2 separate regions of the Homo sapiens genome follow, and region 2 is linked to region 1. The links come from fine-mapping of genetic effects on gene expression. A gene starts in region 1. The other region holds a variant in brackets. All regions are shown on one strand. Distances are between the middles of the regions. Region 1 holds the start of POR (cytochrome p450 oxidoreductase). Region 2 overlaps HIP1 (huntingtin interacting protein 1).

Region 1 (15,124 bases):
TTTATTTTTTGTAGAGGCGGGGCCTTGCTATGATGCCCAGTTTGGTTTCAAACTTCTGGCTTCAAACAATCCCCGCCTCAGTCTCCCAAAGTGCTAGGATTACACGTGTGAGCCACCATGCCCGGCTCCACTGCTTTTATTTTATTTTATTTATTTTATGTTTGAGATGGAGTCTCACTCTGTTGCCCAGGCTGGAGTGCAGTGGCGCGATCTCAGCTGACTGCAACCTCCGCCTCCTGGGGTGAAGCGATTCTCCTGCCTCAGCCTCCCAAGTAGCTGGGATTATAGGCGCCTGCCACCACGCCTGGCTAATTTTTGTATTTGTTTAGTAGAGACAGGGTTTTGCCATGTTGGCCAAGCTGGTCTCGAACTCCTGACCTCAGGTGATATGCCCACCTCTGCCTCCCAAAGTGCTGGGATTACAGGCATGAACCACCATGCCGAGCCTGGCTAATTTTTTTTTTTTTTGAGACAGAGTCTCGCTCTGTAGCCCAGGCTGGAGTGCAGTGGCAATCTTGGCTCACTGCAAGCTCTGCCTCCCGGGTTCATGCCATTCTCTTGCCTCAGCCTCCCGAGTAGCTGGGACTACAAGTGCCTGACACCAAGCCCGGCTAATTTTTTTGTATTTTTAGTAGAGACAGGGTTTCACTGTGTTAGCCAGGATGGTCTCAATCTCCTGACCTCAAGTGATCCTCCCGCCTCGGCCTCCCAAAGTGCTGGGATTACAGGCATGAGCCACCGTGCCTGGCCCAGCCTGGCTAATTTTTAAAAAAATTTTTTGTAGAGATAGGGTCTTGCTGTGTTGCCCAGGCTGGTCTTGAACTCCTGGCCTCAAGCCATCCTCCCACCTCGGTCTCCCAAAGTGTTGGGAGCCACCTTACCTGGCCAGAAAACATATTTAGAATATAGATGTTATCAAGCTCAATAATGAAAATGTAGAGGTTCAGACGGCTAAAGTTTTAGAGGGACAGAGCAAAGGGAAAGGGAAGCTTCATCGTACAATATTAAGAGATACTGTTCATGGATCAAAAAACAAAGGCCCCAGGCTACTACTTAAATTATAAAAGTGATTAACAGAGGAATTAAATTAGGTGTATAAATAATATTGGAAGGGTGTGGGCAGCAGAGGTGAGCTGTGGTTTAAATGGCCTAACTCACATCAGTGGGACTCCAGAGGTAACATCTAAAATATCAGGCAGAGGGCTGGACATGGTGGCTCATGCCTGTAATCCCAGTGCTATGGGAGGCTGAGGCAGGAGGATTGCTTGAGCCCAGGAGTTTGAGACCAGCCTGGGCATCATAGTGAGAACCTGTCTCTTTATTTATTTATTTATTTATTTATTTGAGATGGATTCTCTCTATATATCCCAGGCTGGAGTGCAGTGGCGTGATCTCGGCTCACTGCAACCTCCGCCTCCTGGGTTCAAGGGATTCTCCTGCCTCAGCCTCCCAAGTAGCTGGGATTACAGGCACCCACCACCACACCCAGCTAATTTTTATATTTTTAGTAGAGACCGAGTTTCACCATGTTGGCCAGGCTGGTCTTGAACTGCTGACCTCAAGTGATCCGCCCGCCTTGGCCTCCCAAAGTGTTGGGATTACAGGCGTCAGCCACCGCACCTGGCCTGTCTCTATATTTAAAAAAGAAAAGAAAAGAAAAGAAAAGAAGAACAAGGAGGAGGAGGAGAAAGAAGAAAGAGAAGAAGAGGAAGAGGAAGGAAGAAGAAGAGGAGGAAGAGGAAGAAGAGGAAGAGGGAGAGGAGGGAGAGGTGGGAGAGGAAAGAGAGGAAGGAGAGGAAGGAAAAGAGGAAGGAGAGGAGAAGAGGAAGGAGGAGAAGAAGGAGAAAAGAAAAGAAGAAGAAAGAAGAAGAAAAGAAGAAGGAAGAGGAGGAAGAGGAAGAGAAGAAGAAGGAGGAGGAAGAAGAAGAAGAGAGAAGAAGAAAGAAGAAGAAGAAAAGAAAGTCACAGGTCAAAATCAGCCAGAAAAACATGTATGTACCAGCATGGCTGTAATGACCAGAAGAAAATGCTAAAAAAGAGAAGAATTTATCCTTTCAGCCAGATGCATTGGCTCATGCCTATAATCCCAGCGCTTTGGGAGGTCGAGGCAGGTGGATCACTTGAGGTCAGGAGTTCGAGACCAGCCTGGCCAAAGTGGTGAAACCCCATCTCTACTAAAAATATAAAAAATTAGCTGGGCGTGGTGGAGCGCACCTGCAGTCCCAGCTACTCTGGAGGCTGAGGCAGGAGAATCGCTTGAACCCAGAAGGAGGAGGTTGCAGTGAGTCAAGATCACACCACTGCACTCAAGCCTAGGCGACAGAACAATACTCCACCTTAAAAAAAAAGAAAATCAAGTCTATAGTCACTATTCTTTAGATTTGGGGAGCAAGTAAAAGTTTGTTCTTTGGCCAGCAGCAAGATTATCTGGGTATTTAAAAAGTATTTATGAGCTGGGTGTAGAGGCTGACACCTGGAATCCCAGCGCTTTGAGAGGCCGAGGTGGGAGGATCACTTGAGCCCAGGAGTTCAAGACCAGCCACATAGCGAGACCCTCTCTCAACAACAAATAAAAAATAAATTAGCCAGGTGTGGTGGTGCTCACCTGTAGTTCCAGCTACTCGGAGGCTGAGGTGGGAGGATTGCCTGAGCCCAGGAGGCAGAGGTTGTAGTGAGCCATGATCATGCCACTGTACTCCATCCTGGGCGACAGAGCAAAACCCAGTCTCTAATTTAAAACAAAAAAAGGTATTTATGTATTTGACTTAGAATAAGTAATACATTCATAAGGTACAAAATTTGAATGATACAGAGTAGTATATAGTGAAATATATTCCTTTGCCCCTGGTCTCCCTCCTCCCAGTTCTCCAGAGACAACCAACCTTACCTCCCTCCCTTTTTTTTTTTTTTGTTTTTGTTTTTGTTTCAGGAGGTATTTCATGCACATACAGGCAAATATGTATACCTAGTATCTATGTTCTTCCCTCATTTCCCACCACAATTGTTTGAGAACATACAAACGGTAACATTCTATACCTACTGTTCTGTACCTTGCATATTTATCAATTTGTCTCAGAGATTTTTCTGTTTAAGCAATGAGCTTCCTTCCTTGTTTGTTTGTTTGTTTGAGACAAGAGTCTCACTCTGTCACCCCGGCTGGAGTGCAGTGGTGCACCCTTGGCTCACTGCAAACTCCGCCTCCCAGGTTCAAGCGATTCTCCTGCCTCAGCCTCCCGACTAGCTGGGATTACAGGCGCCCACCACGCCCAGCTAATGTTTTGTATTTTTAAGAGACGAGGTTTCACCATGTTGGCCAGGCTGGTCTCAAACTCCTGACCTCAAGTAATCTGCCTGCCTCGGCCTCTCAAAGTGTTGGGATTACAGGTGTGAGCCACCGTGCCCTGCCGGCCCCTTGTTTGTTTGTTTTTGTTTTTTTGAGACGGAGTCTCAGTCTGTTACCCAGGCTGGAGTGCAGTGGCGCAATCTCAGCTCACTGCAACCTCTGCCTCCCGGGTTCAAGCCATTCTCCTGTCTCAGCCACCCCTGGGACTACAGGCATGTGCCACCATGCTCAGCTAATTTTTGTATTTTTAGTAGAGACGGGGTTTCGTCATGTTGGCCAGGCTGATCTCGAACTCCTGGGCTCTAGCGATCCTCCCACCTCAGCCTCCCAAAGTGCTGGGATGACAGGCGTGAGCCACTGTACCCAGCCCAGATTATTTCTCAATGTTTTCATTTATGGCTTCTGGAGTTTATGTCATAATTTCATAATTTAGAAATGCCTCTTGGGGATTATTAACACCAATTCTCCCATGGACTTTTGGGGGCTTTTTTTTTCCTTCTCCCTTAAAAAATCATTTAAATATTTTATCTATCTGGAATTTATATTAGTGTAATATGTGAGATGTGGATGCAACCTACTTTTTTTCCCCCCAGCTGGCCAGCGAGAGTGTTTTTTCGGGGTGGGGGTGGGGAGGGAAGGAGAGGAAGGTAGGACAATGAGGAGGACAGTAACTGAAGAAGAGAAGCTTTCAGCTCGGTGTGGTGGCTCACGCCTGTAATCCCAGCACTTTGGGAGTCTGAGGAGGATGGATCACCTGAGGTCAGGAGTTCGAGACCAGCTTGGCCAACATGGCAAAACCCCGTCTCTACTAAAAATACAAAAATTAGCCAGGTGTGGTGGTGCACACCTGTGATCCCAGCTACTCAGGAGGCTGAGGCAGGAGAATCGCTTGAACCCAGGAGGTGGAGGTTGCAGTGAGCCTAGATCTCACCACTACACTTCAGCCTGGGTGTCAGAGTGAGACCCTGTCTCAAAAAAAAAAAAAAAAAAAAAAAAAAAAAAAAGAGGCTTCCTTGCCAGTGGGTGTAGCAGAAACGAGAAGTGACATAAACAGTCAGGAAGCCGGCTAGGTGCGGTGGCTCACACCTGTAATCCCAGCACTTTGGGAGGCCAAGGCAGATGGATCACCTGAGGTCAGGAGTTCGAGAGCAGCCTGGCCAATATGGTGAAACCCCATCTCTACTAGAAATACAAAAATTAGCCGGGTGTGGTGGCACAAGTCTGTAATCCCAGCTACTCAGGCAGCTGAGGCAGGAGAATCGCTTGAACTCAGGAGGCAGAGGTTGCAGTGAGCTGAGATGGTGCCCCTGCACTGCAGCCTGGGTGACACAGTGAGACTCCATCCCCCCCAAAAAAGTCAGGAAGCTGCTGAGATCATCCAGGTGAACGGTGAACCCACGTGGCCCCAACTGGAACAGGGACAGCAGAAAAGATGACAAGAGGAGGTTCTGGAGATAGAATCCATAGGACCCAGTTATTGGTTCAATGGGAAAAGGCCAAAGAGGTAAAATGCCTGTTTCCTGATGTTTCCTTAGTGATGCTATATTATTAGCAGACAGAGAAGACTCAGTGTTTTAGGAGTTCTGGTTTCAAAAAAAGCAGGGGGCATGGAGTCAAAGTCCAAATTTGAAGCCTCACTGGGACATCCTGGGGAGATGTCCAACAGGGTGTTGAAAAGATGGCACAGAGTATCAGATATCTGGGTGAATTTCTCCACAGCTCTCTCTCTGGGTGAGTGTGGAGTTCAGTCCCTTCTTTGGACAGGTATTGTGCCCCACCCTGAGGGCTACTGCATTCATCCAACCTGTTGGAGGGACTGGTTCCTGGACATAGGAAACCTGGCACCTGGGCCATGGTAATAATCTCTTTATATAGGATTTTGCTATTTTCACAATATTTTAAAGATGAAGAGTGGATGGGAATGGTGGCTCACATCTGTAATTCCTGCACTTTGGGAGGCCGAGGCAAGGGATCCCTTGAGGCCAGGAGTTCAAGACCAGGTTGGGCAACATAGCGAGACTCTGTCTCTACAAAAAATTTAAAAATTAGGCTAGGTGCAGTGCTCACACCTGTAATCTCAGCACTTTGGGAGGCCAAGGTGGGAGGACTGCTTGAGGTCTGGAGTTTGAGACCAGCCTGGGAAACATGGCAAAACACCATCTCTACAAAAAAATTTCAATCAACTTTCTTTAAAATGAAAAATAAAAATACAAAAATTAGCCAGTTGTGGTGGCGCATGCCTGTAATTCCAGCTACTAGGGAGGCTGAGGCAGGAGGATCACCTGAGCCCAGGAGGTCGAGGCTGCATCCCAGCCTCAGCGACAAAGGGAGACCCTGTTTCAAAAAATAAGTAACATATATGTTATTATATAATATATATTATTTATATAATATATAAATATAACAAATATAACATTTATATAATATATAAATGTTATATTTATGTATTATTTTATAAATTAACTTTTTTTTTTTTGTGAGACGGAGTGTCACTCTGTCGGCCACACTGGAGTGCAGTGGTGTGAACTGGGCTCACTGCAACCTCTGCCTCCGGGGTTCAAGTGGGTCTCCTGCCTCAGTCTCCCCAGTAGGTGGGATTACAGGCACCCGCCACCATGCCCAGCTAATTTTTGTATTTTTAGTAGAGACGGGGTTTTGCCATGTTGGTCAGGCTGGTCTCGAACTCCTGACCTCAGGTGATCCGCCCACCTCAGCCTACCAAAGTTCTGGGATTACAGGCGTGAGCCACCGTGCCTGGGCTATTTTTAAAAGATGGAGAAGGGGCTCTGAGAGAAGTGAGTTGCACAGTGTTGCAAAAGGAATTCACAGCACAGCTAGTAATAATAGTAGTAGTAGTAATAATAACAATGGCGATGAGAACACTTAGTAATGCCGTGCTCTAAATCCTTTAGGAACAAAGGTTATACCACTTAATCTTCATGACCCTGTAAAGTAGAAACCATAGCAGGAGGCAGAGGTGGGCTTCACTCCCCAACCAAGGCTGCCAGACTTTTCAAACCCCAGAAGCTCTCTGTATCCCCCCACTCCTCTTCCATCCAGGGCTTGCCTCCTGCTTGGTCACTTCCCACCCCCAACAGGCCGGCCTTCAAAAGCGAGCTCTAGGCAGCGTGTGGGACCTCACGCCTGTAATCGCAGCGCTTTGAGAGGCCGAGGAGGGAGGATCACTTGAGACCAGTTCGAGACCAACCTGGGCATCATAGCGAGACCGCATCTCTGCAAATAAAATAAAATAAAATTAGCTAGGTGTGGTGGCGCGCCTGTAGTCCCAGCTACTGGGAGGCTGAAGTGGGAGAATCGCCTGAGCACAGGAGTTGAAGGCTGCAGTGAGCTGTGACTGCACCACTGCAATCCAGCCTGGGCGACAGAACGAGACCCTGTCTCTAAAAACAAACGCGCGCCCTCCGCCGTCAGGCTGGATGGAGGGAACCCAGGGAGACGACTTGGGCCTGAAGCCTCGCCAATTTCAGGTGAGGAAACAGGGCCGTGGAGGAGACAATGTGGCGATCACAAGCAAGCGGCGGCCCGAAGGAGGAGGCTAGACCGGCGGGCGCACAGCCACAGTTCTGCAGTGATCCCCGGGAAGGTGGGCAGCCGGCCCGGTGACCTGCAGGGTCCGAGCTGTAGAAGCCGCAGCCGCCGTCTCCAGGCGACTCCGCCACCCCCGGAACCACGCACTTTCATTTCTCTGCCGGGCGACCCAGCCGAGCCGCGAGGGGGCGTGGCCGGGCCGGGCCGTACCAAGAGCGCAAATTTGCAGGGGGAAGCGCGGGGCTCCGGGAATGCACGCGCGGCTCGAGTGGGCGGGGCGGCGGCCCAATGGCCACGCCCCCACCCCCGCGGCCGGCGAAGGCGGTGGTAGCGCCTCAGTGGTGTGGGCCTGAGCCCTGCCCAGGTGCCCGCAGAGAGCAGCCGGGCTGCCAGCGGTGAGTGCTATCTTTCGCGGCGACGGCGGGGTGGGTGAGGTCGGGCCCCAAGACTCGGGGTTTGCCGGGCGCCTCAGTTCACCGCGGCCGCCTGGCTCTCTGCGTCGGGGTGGGCCCTCGGGCCTGGGCACTGCGCGTCTGGCCCGACGCTCGGGCGGAAGGCATGGCTCCCACCCCGGCCCTCCTCCGCGTCGCCCTTCCCCTAGAGCTGATCTCCCGCGGCGGCCTGAGGGTCGACTTTTCCACAGCTTGGGCCGAGAGAGCCCGGCAGGCCCTCGGCTGAGGGTTAGGGCTCGGTATCTCAGGGCTCGGGGTCCAGTCCCCGCGCCGCCGCCCCCCACGGGCTAAGCCACTTTAACTCTCCGAGCCTCAGTTTCCCCATCTGTACGATGAATGGGCCTCGGGAGGCAGCGAATTCTGGGGGTACCTAACGTGAGAGGCGCTCGATGCATGCTCATGGGACCCGAATCTAACCCTGCAGCATCAGGTGGGCTGAGTCGATGGATCACGGGAGCCCCCCAGCCCGGCCTGCATCCCTGAGGGCAGTGCCCCTCGCAGTCAGGTGTCTCGGCGGCCCCCACAACACAGGTACCCGGATCTCCTGGGGGAGCCGGGACACCCTTAGATCGGGGGAGCAATTGGGTAAGAGTTCAAGGTCTCTTGGGCGCCAGGGGGAGGAGAGTAGAGGTTTCAGTGAGCTTGATTGACTTCGACTTTCTGCGTATTGTTTTTCAAAACGAGTTACCCTTGTGTAAACTGGTGACCACTAATAAGGAGTTTGGGGCTGTTTCAATGAAAGTGGCTGTCTCCTCTCTTAAACCCTTAAAGCTGCAGCCTTGCCTTGCCTTGCCTCTGAGCTTGGCCAAGCTGGAGAATGATGCCAGCACAAAAGGAGACAGGACTGGACTGGGTGGCCCTGGTTTGATTCTTGGCAAGCAAGATACCTCCTGGAGCCTCCGTTTTCTGATCAGTGGGTCTGGTAGTAAGACAGCCACCCTGCTCTCCCCACAGGGTTGAGATTCTGAGGATCAAGACAGGGTCCCAGAGAGTGGCATCGAGAACTTTAATCCTCCTTGTAAGCAGAACGTTTATGGAACCCTCTGGGGGATCCAGTATCCCCACCGTTGTTCACTGCTGTAATTCCTTGGGTCTTGCTTTATGGAGAAGGCATTGATTCATTAACCATTTGCAAGTTCTACCTACGGAAATCCCTTTTGAGTGGTTATGGGGTTGGCTTGGTCAGGAGAACAGCTCCAAAGGCCCAGTTAGTAAACCAGGGAACCCAGAAAGGTCCACTTCCTTTTTTTTGGGAGGAGGGCTGTTTTAGGAGTTCTTATTTTCCTTTTAAGAGAGTGGTTTTTGAGCTACTTATGACCTTCATGCCATCTAATGTTGGAAACTTTCGCTGAGCAGATAGCTTATTATAAAAAGTATTTGTACAACATCCGCATTTCAGAGAATGGGATGCTAGCTGCCAGTTGCGTGGTGGTGTGGAAACTTAGGAGTGATCTTAATTTTCCAAAATTCTTCAGGTCTAGCACTTGAAGAAATAATAGGTAGATTTGAAATGAAACAACCCAGGGATATTCCTGAAAACAGCAGCATTGACCGCAGCCAATGTAAATCAGGTGTGGATCGTCCTGGGTAGTAGGAGTTTATAAATGCCACAGAGGATGTTTGCTGCCAGACATACCTGAATTTTAGGACCTGCTGTTGGTTAACTCTGGGTTGATCCACCCTTAACCCCTTGAAAATCAGAATCTGTGTTAGGTAAGTCTGTGTATGATTAGGAGACAGGCCAATTGAAATCAAAACTGCTTGGCAAATCCAGAACATTTACTCGTGAAGTCCATGGAACATTTCAAGTTAAAAATAATTTAGCTTTTAAGTAACTTTTTTTTTTTTGTGAGACAGGTCTCACTCTGTCGTGCAGGCTGGAGTGCAGTGGCGCAATCATAGCTCACTGCAGCCTCAACCTCCAGGATTCAAGCAATCCTCCCTCCTCAGCCTCCCAAGTAGTTGGGAGTACAGGCACGCACCACCACACCCAGCTAATTTTTTAAATGTTTTTTAGAGATTTGGTTTGCCATGTTGCCCAGGCTGGTCTCGAATTCTGGGGTTCAAGTGGTCCTCCTGCTTTGACCTCCTAAAGTGCTGAGATTACAGGTGTGAGCCACCGTTCCTGGCTTTCTTATTTCTTCTTCTTTTTTTTTTTTTTTTTTCTGATGGAAGCTCTTGAAGTTATAGGACCTTTCATGGTTCCAGAGAGGCTGGCCGCCCCTACAAGAGCTTCGATGTCCTTGTGCTTTAGGGAGGAGCCAGAGAAACAGAGGTCAAGCTCTGGCACTAGCACCGTGTGTGGCCTCAATTGAGCATGTTGGGATTTAACTTTCTGTTATATGTCAGACTCACTTAAAAATTAAAGTTAGAAAAAGGTGAAATGGAGAAATGACAATTTTCTTTTCTTTTCTTTTCTTTTTTTGAGATGGAGTCTCGCTCTGTCGCCCAGGCTGGAGCGCAGTGGGCTCAGTGCAGCCTCCACCTCCCCCAGGTTCAAGCAATTTTCCTTGCTTGAATTCTGCCTCAGCCTCCTGAGTAGCTGGAATTTCGAGTACCCACCACCTGGCCAAAGATTCTGTGCTCATTAGCACACAGCCTCCCAGGTGGCTACAGCCTTAAAAGACTTTCAAATGCCAATTCTAGGCTGGGAACAGTGGCTCACGCCTGTAATTCCGGCACTTTGGGAGACCAAGGTGGGTGAATTGCTTGAGTCCAGGAGTTTGAGACCAGCCTGGGCAACACGGCGAATCCCTGTCTCTATAAAAAAAATACAAATACAAAAATTGACTGGGCATGGTGGCTCACGCCTGTAATCCCAGCACTTTGGGAGGCCGAGGCAGGCAGATCACTTGAGGTCAGGAGTTCGAGACCAGCCTGGCCAACGTGGTGAAACCCCGTCTCTACTAAAAATACAAAAATTAGCCGGTGTGGTGGTGTGCACCTGTAATCCCAACTACTCAGGAGGCTGAGGCAGAAGAATCACTTGAACCTGGGAAGCGGAGGTTGCAGTGAGCCGAGATCGTGCTGCTGCACTCCAGCCTGGGTGACAGAGTGAGACTCTGTCTCAGAAAAAAAAACCCAAAAAACAACAACTTGTTTTGCTGTGCAGTTTTGTCATCTGGCATTGGGCAGAAATTTGGACCCGCCGGGCAGGTGGGAGAAGCATCTGAGTCAGAGGTCACTTACCTGCTTGCATAGGCCGCTGACCTATACCAAGCCTTAGTTTCTTCATCACTAAAGTCAGAGAAAGAACCCACTCCACCTGCCTCTGGGACAGCTCAGAACATGTTAACCCTTTCAGCAGTGGGTCCTTCTTCATCTTCTTGGCGCTGTTTGGATCCCTGTAGCGTGACACATAAAAAAGCACACATCCGGCCTTAGGATATGTGTAGGCTCTGGTTTGGGCACTTGAGAACTCTCACAGGGAGGGAAGCAAGCATACAATTCAACAAGAATGGCACGGTGTGTTGCATTCATTCTCAAGATGATGGGGTGAGGCTTTTATTAGTGCTGAGCCTGCTGTTTGTTTCCACAGCAGGGCTCCAGGGGAGAGGTGATGTTTGAGTTGGGTCTTGGAGGATTGCTAGGAGTTCTCTGAGCCCACCCAGGCACACCAGCTCTGGGGGGCATGTAGGGTGTAGATTGCATGAGGCTGAGGTCGCGTGGTGGCACTTGTCTGAAATGGTCCTAGGAACCATGGGAAGAGATGGGGAGGTGTTTTAAAAGGTCAGGGCTATGTGACTAGCTCAGATCAGTGTTGTGTGTTTTTTTTTTTTTTAGACAGAGTCTCACTCTGTCACCCAGGCTGGAGTGCAGTGGTGTGATCTTGGCTCACTGCAACCTCTGTCTCCTGGGTTCAAGCAATTCTTGTGCCTCAGCCTCCCGAGTAGCTAGGATTACAGGCACCGGCCACCATGTCTGGCTCAGGACAGTGTTTTCTTGTACTGAATATTCTCTTACTGCCTAATATCCTCTCTGGGTGAATGAACAACCATTTGGGAAATTTTTACTGTGTCTAAATTTGTAATCATACTGTTTTAGAGCTCTACATCTTAAAAGTTTTTCCTCCCCAAGCGAGATGTTTACATCAGTTGTGTTCTTGTTGGGATTAGTGTGCACACGCCTGTCTGCATCTGTGCGTGCGTGTGTGTGTGTGTGTGTGTGTGTGTATGCATATAAGAGGGAGAGAAGATGGAGGAATTCCATGGGGGCAGACCATGGTTCTTTGCAGATTGGTGGCTCCAGTTGGTTGGGTTCACTGGAGCCACGTTCATCAGTTTGTTTCTTTCTTTCCTTTTCTCTCTCTGTATGTTTATTTATTTATTTATTATTTGTAGAAGTGGGGTCTGGCTATGTTGCCCAGGCTAGTTTCAAACTCCTGGCCTCAAGTGAGCCTCCTATCTCAGCCTCCCAAAACGCTGGGATTACAGGCATGAGCCACCGCGCCCAGCCCAGTAACTGTTACTCCTGACGCTGGTCGGTGTGGCAACTCAGTTGATGCTTGGACGTGTTGTGAACAAAGCCCCGGGGAACCTGATCCTTCTGGTGGCTTGTGCAGCAAACTGTTGATGTGGGAAGCTTATTTATTTCACTTGTTAAAGAGGTGACTTGGATAGGGGGATATCTAAGAATTGTCCTTTCATTGGAGTGCTGGAGGGTGTGGCATTCGGATCTCCTTTGTGCAGCATCTGTACCTAGCTGAGAGAATTGTACACATAATTTCCCGAAATGCGTCAGTTTCAAGGCTAACTTAGAATATGTTGGTGGCCAGACTGTGGTGCTGTCAGCTGTGGACTGTTCTCCAAGAGTTGAATTTCTTTTTTTTTTTTTTTTTTTTTTTTTTTGAGACAGAGTCTGACTCTCTCGCCTAGGCTGGAGTGCAGTGGTGTGATCTTGGCTCACTGCAACCTCTGCCTTCCAGGTTCAAGCAATTCTTCTGCCTCAGCCTCCCAAGTAGCTGGGATTACAGGCGCGTGCCATCACGCCCGGCTAATTTTTTTTTGTATTTTTAGTAGAGATGAGGTTTCACTGTGTTGGCCAGGCTGGTTTCAAACTCCTGACCTCAAGTGATCCACCCGCCTCAGCCTCCCAAAGTGCTAGGATTACCAGGCGTGAGCCACCATGTCCAGCTTATAAGAATTGAATTCTTTAGGAGACATTTGGTAGGAGAATAGAAGGGGGAAAGTTGCCTTTTGTCTACTTGGATGTAGTAATGAGGAGGAAGATGGGGCATTGTGGGGCGTGTCCTCTAACTTGGAACAGATGTAATTTATTTCTAGGTGAAAGTTAAGAACAGTGCTTACTCATTCTATTTATCTGCCCTCCTTTTATCTTCGGCACTTTTTCCTACAGCCCTGTTTCTGAGCTCACGTCACATCACCTCTGCGGTGGTGATGCCGGTGTTCTTAGAGCACTGTGTCCTAGTGATACTTTGATCTTCGTGGGCATGCATCATCAGTGCATTGGGTAAGCCGGGCCTGTACAAAGGTTTGCAGGTTTGGTTAGGAACACGTGAACTACGGTCACCTTTCTGAACTTTCTGAACTCATATGTAGTGACCATAGGTCACCTGGGTTGAGTTTTCAACACTGCAAACAGGGATGGCAGTTCTTGAATACACAGGAGAGTGCATTAGCCAGTGGTGCCCGGCATCATTCAGAGTGCAGTTTGGCATCAGGAATGTTCCGTCAGGTATTTGTGGTCTTGTGGAGAAAAGCCACTGTTGGTTTTGGTGAAGGGCTTCAGACCCTTTGACTGCTCATGAAACCACACAGTCTTAACATGGACACGTTGGACGCGTTCCTTACGTAACGTGATTTGCAAACTCAGGAGTCATTCAGCGTCACAGCAGTGATCAAAAGCTCCCAGCCCATCTACCCGAAACCTCCACAACAAGAGCTCTATCTGTCAGTGGCCTCACCGACTTCCTGGGCCCTGAAGCTCCAAGGACAAAAGACTCCTGTCCCTTTTCCCTTCCTCTCCATTCTGGGTCTCCCACCACCACCAAGTCCTGTAAGTTTTTAGTCTTTTTTTTTTTTTTTTTTTGAGACAGATTCTTGCTCTGTTGTTCAGAGTGCAGTGACACAATCTCAGCTCACTGCAACCTCTGCCTCCCAGGTTCAAGTGATTCTCCTGCCTCAGCTTCCCGAGTAGCTGGGATTATAGGTGCGCGGCACCGCGCCCAGCTAATTTTTGTATTTTTAGTAGAGACAGGGTTTCACTGTGTTGGCCAGGCTGGTCTCGAACTCCTGACCTCAGGCGATCTGCCTGCCTCGGCCTCCCAAAGTGCTGGGATTACAGCAGGCGTGAGCCACCACGCCCGGCCCTTTAAATCTCTTTCCACTGCTGTGGTCTTACTGTAGCCCCTTGTCACTTCCTGCTGCGCTGACCCGTAATTGACCCATAATTCTCCCTCTCTTCCCCTCCCTACCACGTTCCAAGATCTGTCCATGGTACCATTGCTGGTTGATCTTGGAACCCTGCTTCGGTCACCCCTCCTTTCTCTTCGCCCAGACTGGAGTGCAGTGGCACGATTTGGCTCACTGCAACCTCCACCTGTCAGGTTCAAGTGATTCTCCTGCCTCAGCCTCCCGAGTAGCTGGCACTACAGGCACGTGCCTCCACACCTAGCTAATTTTTGTATTTCTAGTAGAGACAGGGTTTCACCATGTTGGCCAGGCCAGTCTCGAACTCCTGGCCTTAAGTGGTCCACCCAGCTCAGCCTCCCAAAGTGCTGGGATAATAGGCAGGAGCCACTGTGCCCGGTCACTGTCACTGTCTTATTGCATGTTTTCTTCTTCATCTGCTTTCATAAAGGATAAACAGTGACTTAATAAAAGGTGTCTAATTCTCCCCTCCCTAGTGGCAATACGGTTGGACTAGAAGGTGAATTCAGTTGAGAACAGGGAACCTATCATTTCTGCGAGTGTAAGCTGGGGCATAGAACAATGCCAGGCATAAGGTAGGCACTTGGATGAATGGATGAATGAATAAATATGGCTTCTGTCCCCCAAGTTTACTGCTGAGCTTTCTCCTGCATATTGACTGAGCTCAGATGTCAAAATTGGGTCTGATCTGTAGTTTTTTTTTTTTTTTTTTTTGAGACAGAGCCTGTCACTCTGTCGCCCAGGCTGGAGTGCAGTGGCGCAATCTTGGCTCACTGCAACCTCTGCCTCCTGGGTTCAAGCAATTCTCGTGCCTCAACCTCCTGAGTAGCTGGAATTATAGGTGTGTGCCATCATGCCTGGCTAATTTTTTGTAATTTTAGTACAGATGGGGTTTCACCATGTTGCCCAGCTGGTCTCGAATGCCTGACCTGAAGCAGTCTGCCCGCCTCGGCCTTCCGAAGTGCTGGGATTACAGGCGTGAGCCACTGCGCCTGGCCTGGTCTGTACTTCTGAAGATTATTCCAAAGTACAGTAGGAACTTTTGGTAGGACTTTAGTTTTCCATCCAGGTATAAAATTTTGTGTCAGTGGTGGGGTTGCGCATGTTCAGTAGCTGCAACACTAGAAAGATGGCAAAGCAGGAGCAAAGAAAAATCCCTTTGGCTCCAGAAAATCTCCTGAAAGCAGAAGGCTTATCAAGGCCTCAAAGCCACCCAGTCAAAGTAGGCACTTTTGGCAAAGGAGGAGCAGAGGGAAGGAAAAGAGCTCAGGTTTAAACGACTGGAATCATTCCTACATGATTCCTGGCGGCAGAAACATGACAAGGTGTGTCTCAGACGACTAGAAGTAAAACCTCACACCTTGGAATCGCCAGATAAACATTCCTTGGCC
Region 2 (15,124 bases), 300 kb before region 1:
TACCTTTATTTTTTTAAGACTTAACCAAGCTACTCAGGCCAACAATGTATTTTTCTCTCTTCCTTCTTTCTTTTCTCTTCTTTTCTTTTTTTTTTTTTTTTTGAGACAAAGTCTTGCTCTGTTGCCCAGGTTAGAGTGCAGTGGCACAATTTTGATTCATTGCAACCTCTGCTTCCTGAATTCAAGTGATTCTCCTGCCTCAGCCTCCGGAGTAGCTGGGATTATAGGCCCACACCACCACACCTGGCTAATTTTTGTATTTTTAGTAGAGACAGGGTTTCGCCATGTTGGCCAGGCTGGTCTTGAACTCCTGACCTCAGGTAATCCACCTGTCTCAGTTTCCCAAAGTGCTGGGATTACAGGCATGAGCCACCTCATCCAGCCCTTTTTTTTTTTTTTTTTTTATAAGAAACAGGGTCCTGTTCTGTCACCCAGGCTGGTGTGCAGTGATGTGATTATAGCTCACTGCAGCCTTGAACGCCTGTGCTCAAGTGATCCTCCAGCCTTAGCCTCCCGGGAAGCTGGGACTTCCAGGCATGTGCCACCACACCCAGCTAATTTTTTTGTATTTTTTGTAGAGATGGGGTCTCCCTGTGTTGCCCAGGCTGGTCTTGAACTCAGGCTCAAGTGACCCTCCCCCAACAGCCTCCCAAAGTACTGAGATAACAGTTGTGAGCCACCGCACCTGGCCTTTTTTTTCTCTTTTTTTGAATTCCTATTTCTCTTAATACGTTTGACACTGAGTATTACCTTCCCTCCCTACCCAGACTAGAATCCCAAGCACAAGGACCCTGCCTTCTCCTTTCCTGTAGGCCCACAGTCGCGAAGGCAGGTCATAAGTCCATAAGTCATCAGGACTGGCTGCTTCCCAGCACTCTCGCCTCTAAAGTGTACCAGGTAGAGGCCAGGCATGGTGGCTCATGCCTGTAATCCCAGCACTTTGAGAGGCCGAGGCAGGAGGATCTCTTGAGACCAGGAGTTCAAGACCAGCCTGGGCAACATGGTAAGATCCCATCACTATTAAAAAATATATATATATATTTATATATATTAAAATTTTATATATTATTTATATAAAATATATATATACTTTTTTTTTTGAGATGGGAGTTTCACTCCATTTGTCTCCCAAGCTGGAGTGCAGTGGTGTGAGCTTGGCTCACTGCAACCTCTGCCTCTCAGGTTCAAGTGATTCTCCTACCTCAGCTTCCCCAGTAGCTGGGATTACAGGTGCCCGCCACCATGTCCAGCTAATTTTTGTATTTTGTATTTTTTTTTTTAGTAGAGACAGGGTTTTACCATGTTGGCTAGGCTGGTCTTGAACTGCGCCTGTTCTATAAAATTTTTTTAGAAAGAGTCCCAGGTACGCCAGGTGCGGTGGCTCATACCTGTAATCTCAGCACTTTGGGAGGCTGAGATGGGCGGATTACTTGAGGTTCGGAGTTCAAGACCAGCCTGGCCAAAATGGCAAAACCTTGTCTCTACCAAAAATACAAAAAGTAGCCAGACATGGTGGTGCGTGCCTGTAGTCCCAGCCACTTGGGAGGCTGAGGCAGGAGAATCACTTGAACTGGGGAGGCGGAGGCTGCAGTGAGCTGAGATGGTGCCACTGCACTCCAGCCTGGGTGACAGAGTGAGACTCTGTCTCAAAAAAAAAAAAAAAGAAAAAAAAAAGTCCCAGGTATGTGATTCACAGTCTCTTGAGAAAATCTACTCCCTTCCCCTCCCGGCCCCAGGCTCTCTGAAGGACATCATTTGGTTCTGAACTGTTCCCGCCCCGCCACAGGCCAATGCCTGGGGGCCCCTCCCAGCACCAAGGGCGGGCAGTGCGGGGCTGGGTGTCTCACCTCTGGAGGGGGCTCTGGGTTAGGGAACATCATCTGAGAACAGGCTGTTCTCTGGACTTCCCTGGAGTCACACAGGACCTAAGACCAAGCCGTGTCTCCCCTGAAAGGGTGGCATTGTCCACCACTTCCTGACCCAGCAGGCCCTCGTGTCCCCGGCTGGTTCCGGAGAGCCAATTACCAGCAGGCACCGCAGGAAGGGCGCCTTTCTCCCAGCCTCTCTTCCTCCCTCCCCAGCACTCCCCATCCTCCGCTCGCCTGGGACAGCCCAGCCAGGCAGTGGCCAATGGGAAACCCTCTGGCCTTGCTTGTGTGGGGAGCTGGGCCTGGGCCTGGCCTGTGGGCCCAGTTGGACACTGTCAGGTCACATACACACAGCTCTTGGCAGAAGCCCAGCCCTCGGGCTGCCAAGGCCAGGCTGGCTCACAAAGGTCCCACGGCAGGAGCAGGCACGGGGATGTGCCCCGGGTGGGGGTGGCAGGTCCCCAGGCAAGGGGCCAGAGAAGGAAAACCTGAGAACAGGCAGCACAGATGGGAAAGGAGAAGGGCAAAACAAAGGCAGAGGAGGCCGGGCACGGTGGCTCCACCTGTAATCCCAGCACTTTGGGAGGCGGAGGTGGGCGGATCACCCAAAGTCAGGAGCTCCAGACCAGCCTGGCCGACATGGTGAAATCCCATCTCTACTAAAAATACAAAATTAGCCAGGGGTGGTGGCGCGTACCTGTAGTCCCAGCTACTCAGGAGGCTGAGGCAGGAGAATCACTTGAACCCACGAGGTGGAGGTTGCAGTGAGCCGAATTCGCGCCACTGCACTCCAGCCTGGGTGACGAGAGAAACTCTGTCTCACAAAAAAAATAAAATAAAGGCTGGGCGCGGTGGCTCATGCCCGTAATCCCTGAACTTTGGGAGGCCGAGGCGGGTGGATCACCTGAGGTCAGGAGTTCAAGACCAGCCTGACCAACATGGTGAAACCCTATCTCTACTAAAAATACAAAAATTAGCCAGGCCTGGTGGTGGGCGCCTGTAATTCCAGCTACTCAGGAGGCTGAGGCAGGAGAATCGCTTGAACCCAGGAGATGGAGGTTGCAGTGAGCTGAGATCGTGCCATTGCACTCCAGCCTGGGCAACAAGAGTGAAACTCCATCTCAAATAATAATAATAATAATTTTTTTAAAAAGAGGCTGTAATCCCAGTACTTTGAGAGGCCGAGGCAGGCAGATCACTTGAGGCCAGGAGTTCAAGACAAGCCTGGCCAACATGGTGAAACTCCGTCTCTACTAAAAATACAAAAATTAGCTGGGCATGGTGGCAGGTGCCTGTAATCCCAGCTACTCAGGAGACTGAGGTGGGAGGATGGCTTGAGCCCAGAAGTTCAAGGTTGCAGTGAGCTATGATCATACCACTGCACCACTCCAACTTGGGTCACACACACACACACACACACATGCACACAAAAGAAAGAAAAGAAAACTAGAAAGAAAGAAAAGAAAATTGGCCATGGCAGGTTGCAGTACAGGTGGCAATAGCTCAGGTTAACAGCTGGGACCTACCACCTGAGTGAGGATGACAGGGAGAGTACAGAACCAAATGGAGATCAGGTGAGCCTGGGAGAGTAGAGGGACAGGTGAGGCATGAAAGCCAAACAGAGCGTCCCCACCGTGGGGAGCCTTCTGTGCTCCGTGAGACTGCTCTGGTCCTAGCTACAACACTTGGAATTTGCTGCCCAACATCAGGGTCTTTTTAATTCTTCTCTTGATCAAAAATAATAATAATCATCATAGAGCCATTGTCACCAGATTAGTGGTAGTAGCAGGAGCCACTGACCCTCACTTGGGCCTCTTCCTCCTCCCAGGCACTGCACTGGTAATTTACTTCTCATCCGCCTTTGGTCCCTAGAGGGCAAGAAATCTGGGCCCCTATTTTCCAAGACAAGCTACTTGCAAGTAGTACAGCCAGCAAGAAGTGGAGCCAGAATTCAAACCCAGGTCCATCTGAGAGCGCCTCCTCTCCCACACCGTGCTGCCTTCTGTAACTGCCAGGGTCCAACACAAACCTGTTGCCAACCAACGTCCTCCACCCTACTGTCTGCCTCACCTTCTGTTGCCCAGGCTGGAGTACAGTGGTGCAAACGTGGCTCACTACAGCCTCAACCTCCTGGATTCGAGCAATCTCCCATCTCAGCCTCCCAGGCAGCTGAGACGACAGGTGCATGCCACCACACCTGGCTAATTTTTAAATTCTTTTGTAGAGATGGGGTTTGCTATGTTGCCTAGGCAGGGTCTCCCTCTGTTGCCCAGGCTGGAGTACAATGGTGCAAACATGGCTCACTACAACCTTAACCTCCTGGGTTCAAGCAATCCTCCCATCTCAGCCTCCCAGATAGCTGAGACGACAGGTGTATGCCACCACACCTGGCTAATTTTTAAATTCCTTTGTAGAAATGGGGTTCACTGTGTTGCCTAGGCAGGTCTCAAACTTCTGGCCTCAAGTGATCCTCCTGCCTCAGCCTCCTGAGTAGCTGGGATTATAGGCACATGCCACCACACCCAGCTAATTTTTGTAGAGACGGGGTCTTACTATGTTGCTCAGGCTGGTCTGAAACTCCTGGGCTCAAGCGCTTTGGCTGTCCCAGCCTCCCAAAGTGCTGGGACTACAGGCATGAGCCATGCGCTGGGCCCTAAAATGGTGAATTTTATGGTATGTATATTTTACCACCACACACACACATAGACACACACACACACACACAGTTACAAGGTAGATAAGCCTCCAAAACATGCTACATGAAAGAAACCAGACATGAAATGGGACACAATGTGTGATTCTATTTGTATGAAGTGCTCAGAATGGGCAGATCCATAGAGACAGAGAGCTGACTGGTGGCCACTGGGGCCTGGTAGGAGAGGGGTGGGGAGTGATTGCTTAATGGGAACAGGGTTTCCTTTACGGATAGTGAAAATGTTCTGAAATTAAACAGTCATGTCGGTTGCACGACATAGCGAATGTGCCAGATGTTGCTTAATTATACACTTGAATTTGTTACAATAGCGAATTTCATGTTATATGTATTTTGTCACAGGAAAAAAAAAGATAAAAAACACTGAGAAACTGATTTTTTTTTCTTTTTCTGAGACGGAGTCTCACTCTGTCACCCAGGCTGGAGTGCAGTGGCGCGATCTCGGCGCATTGCAACCTCTGCCTCCCGGGTTCAAGTGATTCTCCTGCCTCAGCCTCCTGATAGCTGGGATTACAGGCACCCACCACCCCGCCTGGCTAATTTTTGTATTTTTAGTGGAGACGGGGTTTCACCATGTTGGCCTGTCTTGTCTCGAACTCCTGACCTCAAGTGATCCACCTGCCTCGGCCTCCCAAAGTGCTGGGATTACAGGCATGAGCCACCACGCTGGCCTGAGAAACTGATTTTACTGAATACCTACTACACGCAGGGCAAGGCTGCCACACAGATAGTAAGGCTCTTTGCCATACAACCACAAGAGGGCCTTTCACAGACAGTTGTGGACAGCCATGCACCTGCACATGGCTGCCAGGATCCAGGGCACCACACCAGGGGCTGTGAGAGAGCACACAGATGATAGGAAGTGGACCCTGTGGCCAGGTGTGGCAGCTCATGCCTGGAATCCCAGCACTTTGAGAGGCCGAGGCAGGAGGATCACTTGAGGCCTGGAGTTCAAGACCAGCCTGGGCAACATGGTAAGACCCCATCTCTACAAAAAATGAAAATTTAGCTGGGGATGGTGGTATATCTGTAGTGGTGGCTACTTGGGAGGCTGAGGCAGGAGGATTGCTTGAGCCCAGGAGTTGGAGGCTGCAGTGAGCTATGACTGTGCCACTGCACTCTATCATGAATGACAGATGGAGACCCTGACTCCCCACCCTTAAAAAAGGTGGATCTTGTCCTCAAAGGGACAAAGACTGTACTACTCCTTCCTGTCCTTTCCTTCCTTCTCCTCTGACTGTGCTTATGCCTGTAATCCCAACACTTTAGGAGATTGAGGTGGAGGATCGATTGAGCCCAGGAGGTGGAGGTTGCAGTTGAGCCGAGATTGTGCCACTACACTCCAGCCTGGGTGACACAGCGAGACTCTGTCTCAAAAAACAAAAACAAAAACAAACAAAAAATGGCCAGGCGCGGTGGCTCATGCCTGTAGTCCCAGCACTTTGGGAGGCTGAGGCAGGCGGATCACCTGAGGTCAGGAATTTGAGACCAGCATGGTCAATATGATGAAACCTCGTCTCTACTAAAAATACAAAAATTAGCTGGGTGTGATGGTGCGCACCTGTAGTCCCAGCTACTCAGCAGGCTGAGGCAGGAGAATCGCTTGAACCTGGGATGTGGAGGTTGCAGTGAGCTGAGATCACACCACTGCACTCCAGCCTGGGCGACAGAGTAAGACTCTGTCTCAAAAAAAAAAAAAAAAAAAAAGAAAAGATAAGAAAAGAAAAGAAAACAAAAACAAAAACAAAGTATCTCGTAACATCGTCCTAGACAAGAATGAGAAAGGACAGGCTGCTAGGGGTCCAAACCACCGCCCACCAGCCAAACCTGGCCTCAGCCTGCTTGTGCATGGCCTGTGAGCTAGGACTGGTTTTTGTGTTCTTGTTTAGGGACAGAGTCTTGCTCTGTTGCCCAGGCTGCAGTGTAGTGGTACGATCATAGCTCACTACAGCCTTGAACTCCTGGGTTCATGCAATCGTCCCACCTCCACCTCCCAAGTAGGTGGGCCTACAGGTGCGCACCACCACGCCAGGCTAATTAAAAAATTTTTTTTTGTAGAGACCGGGTCTCACTTTGTTGCCCAGGCTGGTCTTGAGCTCCTGGCTTCTAGCGATCCTCCCACCTTAGCCTCCCAAAGTGCTGGAATTACCGGCGCTAGCCACCATGCCTGGCTTTTTAAGGGTGGGGAGGAGGAGGAGGAGGAGGAGGAGGAGGAAGAGGAGGAGGACGAGGAGGAGGAAGAAATAGTAGCAGCAGGAAGCCACAAAGCCAAAAACATTTACCATCTGGCCCTTTGCAGAAAATGTTTGCTGGCCCCTGGACTAGGCAGGGCAGCCTATGAGGGTGGATGTCCACACATACAGAGGCTGATTACTGGCCATCACTTTGGGGTAAGGCATGCTGGTGCCTGAGCCTGTGTCCTCCTCCTCATGTTTACCAGGGAGGTATATGTCAGGCACAGTGATTGATCTAACTGATGCTGGGAACAACAGTAACTACATTTAGATGACTATTTTTTTTTGTTTGGACAAGGTCTTGCTCTGTTGCCCAGGTTGGAGTGCAGTGGTGCAATCATGGCTCATTGCAGCCTCGACCTCCTGGGCTCAAGCAATCCTCCCACCTCAGCCTCCCAAAATAGTTGGGAGCACAGGTGCATGCCACCACACCCAGCTAATTTTTTTTTTTTTTTTTTTTGAGATGGAGTTTTGCTCTGTCACCTGGCTGGAGTGCAATGGCGTGATCTCAGCTCACTGCAACCTCCGCCTCCCCGGCTCAAGCGATTCCCTTGTCTCAGCCTGCCAAGTCGCTGCGATTACAGGCACCCACCATCACTCCCGGCTAATTTGTTTTGTAGTTTTTAGTAGAGACGGGGTTTCACCATGTTGACCAGGCTGGTCTTGAACTCCTGACCTCAGGTGATCCTCCTGCCTCGGCTTCCCAAAGTGCTGGGATTACAAGCGTGAGCCACCGCACCCAGCCACTAATTTTTTATTATTTGTAGAGGTGAGGATCTCCCTGTGTTGCCCAGGCTGGTCTCGAACTCCTGGCCTCAAGCCATCCTCCTGCAGCGGCCTCCCAAAGTGCTGGGATTACAGGCGTGACCCACCGCGCCCAGCCTCAGCCTGGTTCCTTGCGTGAGTCTTGGTTTCTTGGTCTCCTTTTCCCCGTATGCCAGCTGCCTCCCTCCATAAGAGAACATCTGTGATGACCTTCGGGGTGCCCACTTAGGCTTTCAAAGGGGCCTGGAATGTAGGGCACAGGGTAAGAGACTCGGACACCAGGCCTTGGGGAAAAGGAGAAGCGGGCCCATATGCCCTCCTCTCACCCACAGGGAGCTGTGGCTTCGAAAGGGGCTCCTCCCTTGTAAGGCTGCTGCTCCTGTCGTCATGGAGGAAACCTTGGTTCTGCTTCCCTAGCACCCCAAACTGCAAAGTCACGCTGGCAGGTATTGCACCCAGAGGGCTCATTCCCCATTCATCATAGTCACTGGTTGGGCAAGTCACCCTCCCTAGAAAGCGCAGCCTTGGGTAAATCCACCAGACATATCCTGATCTTTCACTATTCACAGAGCCAGACTGGAGTGGCCTTTCGTAATGGCCCTGGCCAGAGCT[C/T]CCGGGGGAAGCCTTCCGGATAGGCAGCTTGTCAGCAAGAGTGGGAAACCCTGGGCTGCGCCCTCCCCACAAACCACCAGCATTGCCCAACTTCCTCTCTTCATGCCCTCTACCACCCTCTCGTTGCCCCAGCTTTCTTTCTTTCATTTTTTTTCTTGAGACACAGTTTCACTGTCACCCAGGCTGGAGTGCAGTAGTGTGATCTCGGCTCACTGCTACCTACCTCCACCTCCTGGGTTCAAGCGATTCTCACACCTTAGCCTCCCGAGTGGCTGGGATTACAGGCACGTGCCACCAACTCTGGCTAATTTTATATTTTTAGTAGAAACAGGGTTTCACCATGTTGGTCAAGCTGGTCTCAAACTCCTGACCTCAAGTGTTTCATCTGCCTCAGCCTCCCAAAGTGCTGGGATTACAGGTGTGAGCTACCACACGTGGCTAATTTTTGTATTTTCAGTAGAGATGGGGGTTTCACCATGTTGGCCAGGCTGGTCTTGAACTCCTGACCCCAGGTGACCTGCCCTCCTCAGTCTCCCAAAGTGCCGGGATTACAGGCATGAGCCACCGCACCCAGCTGTTTCCCCAGCTTTCTAACAGTGAGGTTAGTTTTGTCTCTTCTCTTTTATTAATATACTGCTACTTATCTCCAATGATCTGAAGACTCAAGGTGGGTGATGCCTGACTTACAGGAGATCCCCCAGCACGGGAACCATCCCTTATCCAGCTCTGGGTCTCTTGCAGTGTCCAATTTCTAGAAGTGACCTTTCTGTCAAGTGAATGAGCCAAGCCCCAGCCACATCCCAGCACTAGAAAACCTGATGCCTCTCCCTTGAGCACATCCTTTTTTTTTTCTTCCAAGTTTTTTTGTAGAGATGGGGTTTCACTATGCTGCCCAGGCTGGTCTCAACCTCCTGGGCTCCAGTGAGCCTCCCACCTTGGCCTCCCACCCAACATCCTTGACATCCCACCTTTTGTTCTATTTCTGCAGGAATCGCTGTGTGTAGAAAGAAAGCCTTTGGTCAGTGGTTCCCAGACTTGGCTAGGCCGGGATATCATCTGAGAATCCTGTACCCCGAGTTTGTACACACACCCCTAGATTCCTTTGCTCCACCCCCAAATTGGACTCATTTGGGCTCGGAAGGGCCCATGGCACTGTTAATTCAGGTGATGTTACAGAAGAACATTGTATGTCAGAGTCTAAGAAAAAATTCAGCTAAAAGTAAAAACAGTGGCCGGGCACAGTGGCTCATGCCTGTAATCCCAGCACTTTGGGAAGCCCAGGTGGGCGGATCACTTGAGGTCAAGAGTTTGAGACCAGCCTGGCCAACATGGTGAAACCCCATCTCTACTAAAAATACAAAAATTAGCCAGGTGTGGTGGCGTGTGCCTGCTGTAATCCCAGCTACTCGGGAGTCTGAGGCAGGAGGATTGCTTAAACCCAGAAGGCAGAGGTTGCAGTGAGCCGAGATCACTCCAGCCTGGGCGACAGAGCAAGACTTTGTCTCAAAAAAAAAAAAAAAAGAGAAGAAAAACAGTAACAAAAAGGAAGAATGAGAGCAAAGAATAAAGATGGTGGAAATGTGAAGAATGAAGTCAGTTTCTCAGCTCAGACAAGTATACCTTGATGTAAGTAAATTTTTTTCTGGAAAATGTGAATTGCCACTAAGGCCAAATTAGGAGATTATTATTCATTTCACAGAAGACATTGGCATTCGATACCCTTAAATAGCAATCTCCGTTAGTACATTTAAGAGAGGATTCAGTTTACAGAAGTGTGATTTATACAAAACCACATCTGTTACATAAAGCTCAGAAAAATAGCTCTCCTCCCATGTCATCTTGCTAACTATAGAACTGGCCCAGTATAGATGGTCACCTATTTTCTTCTAAAAGATACCACCCCTGCTCTCTGTCATCTATTTCTGTTTCACCGTGATCACGGGTAACAGATTCTTAGGGGCCACCCAGATCTCTCTCTGGTCTTCCCTAAACTCAGGGAACAACTGCTCTGAATTGTTTTCATATTCACTCATTCATTCGACATATATTTCTGGAAGGCCTATCATATGCCTGGCACTACTCTAGAAATACAGTGAGGGTGCGGTGGCTCATGCCTGTAATCCCAGCGCTTTGGGAGGCCAAGGTGGGTGGATTGTTTGAGCCCAGGAGTTCAAGACCAGCTGGGGGCAACATGGTGAAACCCTGTCTCTACAAAAATACAAGAAATTATCCAGGCGTGGTGGTGCATGCTTATAGTTCCAGCTACTTGGGAGGCTGAGGTGGGAGGATCACCTGAGCTCAGGAGGCAGAAGTTGCAGTGAGCCAATATTGCGCCACTGTACACCAGCCTGGGCAACAGAGCAAGACCATGTCTTTAAAAAAAAAAAAAAAAAAGGCCAGGCACAATGGCTCATGCCTGTAATCCCATCACTTTGGGAGGCCAAGGTGGGTGGGTCACTTGAGGTCAGAAGTTCGAGACCAGCCTGGCCAACATGGTGAAACCAGTCTCTACTGAAAATACAAAAATTAGCCAGGGGTGGTGGTGCATGCCTGTAGTCCCAGCTACTCGGGAAGCTGAGGAACAAGAATTGCTTGAGCCTGGGAGGCAGAGGTTGCAGCGAGCTGAGATAGCACCATTGCACTCCAGCCTGGGTGAAAGAGTGAGGCTCTGTCTCAAAAACAAACAAACAAACAAATAAATAAACAAAACCAAAATAAAACAGCAAGGAACAGAGATGACGATCTCTGTCCTCACGGAGCTTATATTTTAGCAGGGGAGACAAGCAGTAAACAAATCGGATGGCGAGAGGTGCTATGGAAGAAAGATAAGGGCAAGGATAGGGCTGGAGTGTTCTAGGCAGCATTATAACCTCCCAAAGGGTCACTGAGAAAGGCTGTACTGAGGTGACAGAGGGATACAGACTTTAAAGTGACGAGAGGCTGGCGTGGTGGCTCACACCTAAAATCTCAGCACTTTGGGAGGCCGAGGAGGCAGGACTGCTTGAGACCAGGAGCTTGAGAACAGTCAGGGTGACATAGCAAGATCCTGTCTCTACAAAAAAATTTAAAATGAAAAAATTAGCCTGGCTTGGTGGCAGAGGTGGGAGGATGGCTTGAGCCCAGGAGTTTGAGGCTGCAGTGAGCTACGATAGGGCCACTGCACTCTAGCCTGGGCAGCAGAGTGAGACCCTGTCTCAAAAAATAAATAACATGAAGAGGAAGTGAGCCTGGTACACACCTGGGGGAAGAGTTCTAGGCACACGAGCAGAAGCCCAGCTGGCAGGCGCGAGGAAGTATGGCTAGAGCCGGAAGTCAGGGGCAGGAGGGGCCAAATCCCTAGAGGCCTCGTGGCTCATGGTGAGGACTGACCTTTGTTCCACATAAGACTGGGGCCACTGGAAGTGGTTTTGTTTTTTGCGGTTTTTGGTAAAGACGGGGTCTTGCCATGTTGCCCAGGTTGGTCTTGAACTCCTGGCCCCAAGCGATCCTCCTGCCTTGGCCTCCTAAATTGCTGAGATTAACAGGTGAGCCAGTGTGCCTGGCCTCCCTGGAAGGTTTTGAGCAAAGCGGTAAAACGATCTGATTCAATAGGATCCCTCTGGCTGCTGTGCTGAGAACAGACTGCAGGGACCAGTGTGGCTGCAGGGACCACAGTGAAGACTCTGCTGCCTTCAATCAGGACAGAATTGATGGTGGAGGCAGAGGAGGTGTCGAGACGTGGTCGGTCTCTGAATTTATTTTGAAGCTAGAGCTGATGGGATTATCTGATGTTCTGGATCTGGGGTGTGAGGAAGGAAGGAGTCAAGGAGAACATCGTGATGATTTGCCTGAGCAACTAGAGGGACTGAGCTGCCATTAACAAGCTGGGGGGACCCATGGGAGAGTTGGTTTGGGGCTAGGTTAGACATGACACACCCACCAGGTATCCCAGTGGAGCTGTGGGTGAGCAGTGGGCTGTGCCGCATCTGGAGTTCAGAAAAGGTCTAAGCTAGGCCAGGTGTGGTGGCTCACACCTGTAATCCCAGCACTTTGGGAGGCCGAGGTGGGCAGACCTCTTGAGGCCAGTTCGAGACCAGCCTGGCCAACATGATGAAACCCTGTCTCTACTAAAAATACAAAAATTAGCCAGATGTGGTGGTGCACGCCACCCAGCTGACTCGGGAGGCTAAGGCAGAAGAATTGCTTGAACTCAGGAGGTGAAGGCTGCAGTGAGCTGAGATCATGCCACTGCACTCTAGCCTGGGTGATAGAGTGAGACTCTGTCTCAAAAAAAAAAAGAACAGGTCTGAGCTACATTTATAAATTTGGACGGAATGTAAGAGTGGATAAGAGCACCAAGGAGTGAGTGCAGATGAGATGTCTGGGGACAGCCTGAGGACACCCCGACGTTCAGGAGAGACAGGAGGCCAGGTACGGGCAGTGGCTCATGCCTGTAATCCCAGCACTTTGGGAGTCCAAGGAAGGAGGATTGCTTGAGCCCAGGAGTTCGAGACCAGCCTGGGCAACACAGTGAAACCCCGTCTCTACCAAAAATACAAACATTGCAAGTCTTAAAACCTGGTCTCTAAATAAATAAATAAGGATAGGAGGGAATCAGTGATGGAGATAGAAAAGAAACAGCCTGTGAGGTTGGGGGAAGCCAGGAGACTGTGGCACCCTGGAAGCCATATGAAGAAATGCATTTTGACCGGGCATGGTGGCTGGTGCCTGTAATCCCAATGCTTTGGGAGGCTGAGGCAAGAGGACACTTTGAGCCCAGGAGTTGGAGGCTGTAGTGAGCTATGACTGCGTTACTGCACTCCAGCCTGGGCAACAGAGCAAGATTGTCAAATAAATAATTATCTATCTATCTATCTATCTATCTATCTATCTATCTATCTATCTATATATTTTTTAAAGGAAATTGGCTGGGTGTGGTGGCTCACGCCTGTAATCCTAGCACTTTGGGAAGCTAAGGCGGGCAGATCACCTGAGGTCAGGAGTTTGAGACCAGCCTGACCAACATGGTGAAAGCCTGTCTCTAATAAAAATAAAAAATTTAGCCAGGCGTGGTGGTGCGTGCCTGTAATCCCAGCTACTCGGGAGGCTGAGGCAGGAGAATCGCTGGAACCTGGGAGACGGAAGTTGCAATGAGCTGAGATTGTGCCTCTGCACTCCAGCCTGGGCAACAGAGCGGGACTCCATCTCAAAAAAAAAAAGCAAAAAAAAAAAAAAAAAAAGGCTCTCCCCCTCTGATGGTAGGTCGAGGAGAGAAAGGGGAGGCTGGGAGCTGGAGGCAATGAGTGCTCTACAGGGTTTCTGCTGTGAAGAGGGACAGAGAGAGAGGGCAGCCGCTGGGAGGAGGTGGGCTCAAGGTTTTCTTGTTTCCAGTGGGAGACATAATAATGCATTTGCATGCGCATGAGGAGAGGACGGGAGAGTGGCAGGGATGGGAATGGGGCCTGGTGCCCAGCAGGAGGGCAGGCTGGGCCAGATCCCACAGTACAGACACAGACGGAGGCAGACATGTGGGTGAGGGCAGTGCCAGTTTTCACAGATCGTCTCTCTTCACAGTGAAACAGGAAGCGAGGTCAGGGCTGAGAGCTCAGGATTTGAGGAATGCACAGGATGCCTGGAGCTGCACTCAAGGACCAGGCAAGTGGCACTTGGAGAAAGGAACTAAGCCAGCCTCCGCCTCCTCTTCTCCAGCCCAGTTCTCCCCAGAGCCTCTCCCTTGTCCTCAAACCAACTCTTCTCCTCCTCCTCATTGCCTTTCTGGCTTGTAAAGTGTTTGAGGCTGGGCACAGTGGCTCACGCTTGTAATCCCAGCACTTTGGGAGGCCGAGGCGGGAGGACTGCTTCAGCCTAGGAGTTTCAGACCAGCCTGGGGAGTAGTGAGACCCTATGTCTACAAAACATCAGAAAATTAGGGTGTGGTGGCTCATGCCTATAGTCATAGCTACATAGGAGGCTGAGGCAGGAGGATCGCTTGAGGGCAGGAGGATCACTCGAGCTCTGAAGGTCAACGCTGCAGTGAGCTATGATCGTGCCACTGCACTCCGGCCTGGGAGACAGAGCTGGACCTTGTAAAAGAAACACACGCACACCTCCAAAGCACAGACCTCGCTGATCTCAGGTCAGAACCAAAGAAAAGAGATGGAGTGAGCGGTGAGGCTGTGGTTACACTCTGGAGGCCACGGAATCAGGCAGGCAGAGGCGCTGATGGATACTCCCTGCTCTGGACCCAGGGAGTGAGAACAAGCTGGGGAGGATTTGCTAATCAGTTTTCTAAAGTGGAAAGAGAGGTTGTTGCTAATTCCGGAGGTGGATTTCATCATCGGCTGCACGGCTGTGACGTGACTTCCTCAGAAAGCAAAGCTGCCAGAAACTCTCCCTTCTACTTCTTCTGTCTTTGGGGTGAAGAAGAGCCCTTCCTTAGGGGAGTGGGGGGAAAAAGAGCTATGAGATTCAGAAGTATAGGGGTGTTGGCCGTGGGGGAGTCATCCAACAGGCCCCAGGCAGGGTAAGCCCCACCGAAGCCTCCAGGCCTGACAGCCTACTGGTCTCCTGGTGGCCACAACGTCACTGGAAGCCCCCTTTCTAAAGCACAGCTCCAATCATGTCAGAAACATCCAGGGCTTACGAGGAAACTGCTCCACTCCCTGGCCTGGCACTCAAGGCCTGGAGATCCGGCCCCCACTTGCCTTTCCAGTCTTAGAATTCATTCCTGTCCTTCCCTTTCCCAAATACGTCCTGTCTAATTTGACCCTCATGCCTTCTCTTCATGCCACCTCTCTAACCAAGATTAACTACCCTGCCAAAACCATCTCCATTTATTTAAGTTCCATCATTCATTCAGATAGTTATGATTTTATTCATTCATTGAATTCATCCATCAAATCTATATTCATCCCTCTGTGTCTGTACATAGGTGTATTTTTGTTTAATTTTTT

Evidence for each region.
Region 2: its variant is fine-mapped to the expression of POR in whole blood (TOPMed, PIP above 0.99).

The regions. Positions count from the first base shown.
Region 1 is chr7:75,907,893-75,923,016 of GRCh38, forward strand. It overlaps POR (cytochrome p450 oxidoreductase), which reads left to right and starts at 7,263. Exons shown (of 16, transcript NM_001395413.1): 1 at 7,263-7,287. MIR4651 (microRNA 4651) reads left to right here and starts at 7,305; the gene lies at 7,305-7,377. LOC124901680 (a long non-coding RNA gene) reads left to right here and starts at 4,649. Exons shown (of 2, transcript XR_007060393.1): 1 at 4,649-4,847; 2 at 6,404-6,602. It also overlaps the pseudogene RPL7L1P3. RefSeq lists an enhancer at 6,671-6,720 and a silencer at 6,981-7,470.
Region 2 is chr7:75,609,819-75,624,942 of GRCh38, forward strand. All of the region lies in intron 1 of HIP1 (huntingtin interacting protein 1), which reads right to left. Among named protein-coding and RNA genes, the nearest start is that of HIP1, 120 kb to the right of the region's middle. RefSeq lists enhancers at 1,641-2,214, 7,503-8,004, 13,369-14,322, 14,323-15,124. The variant C/T (reference allele first, on the strand shown) is at 8,193.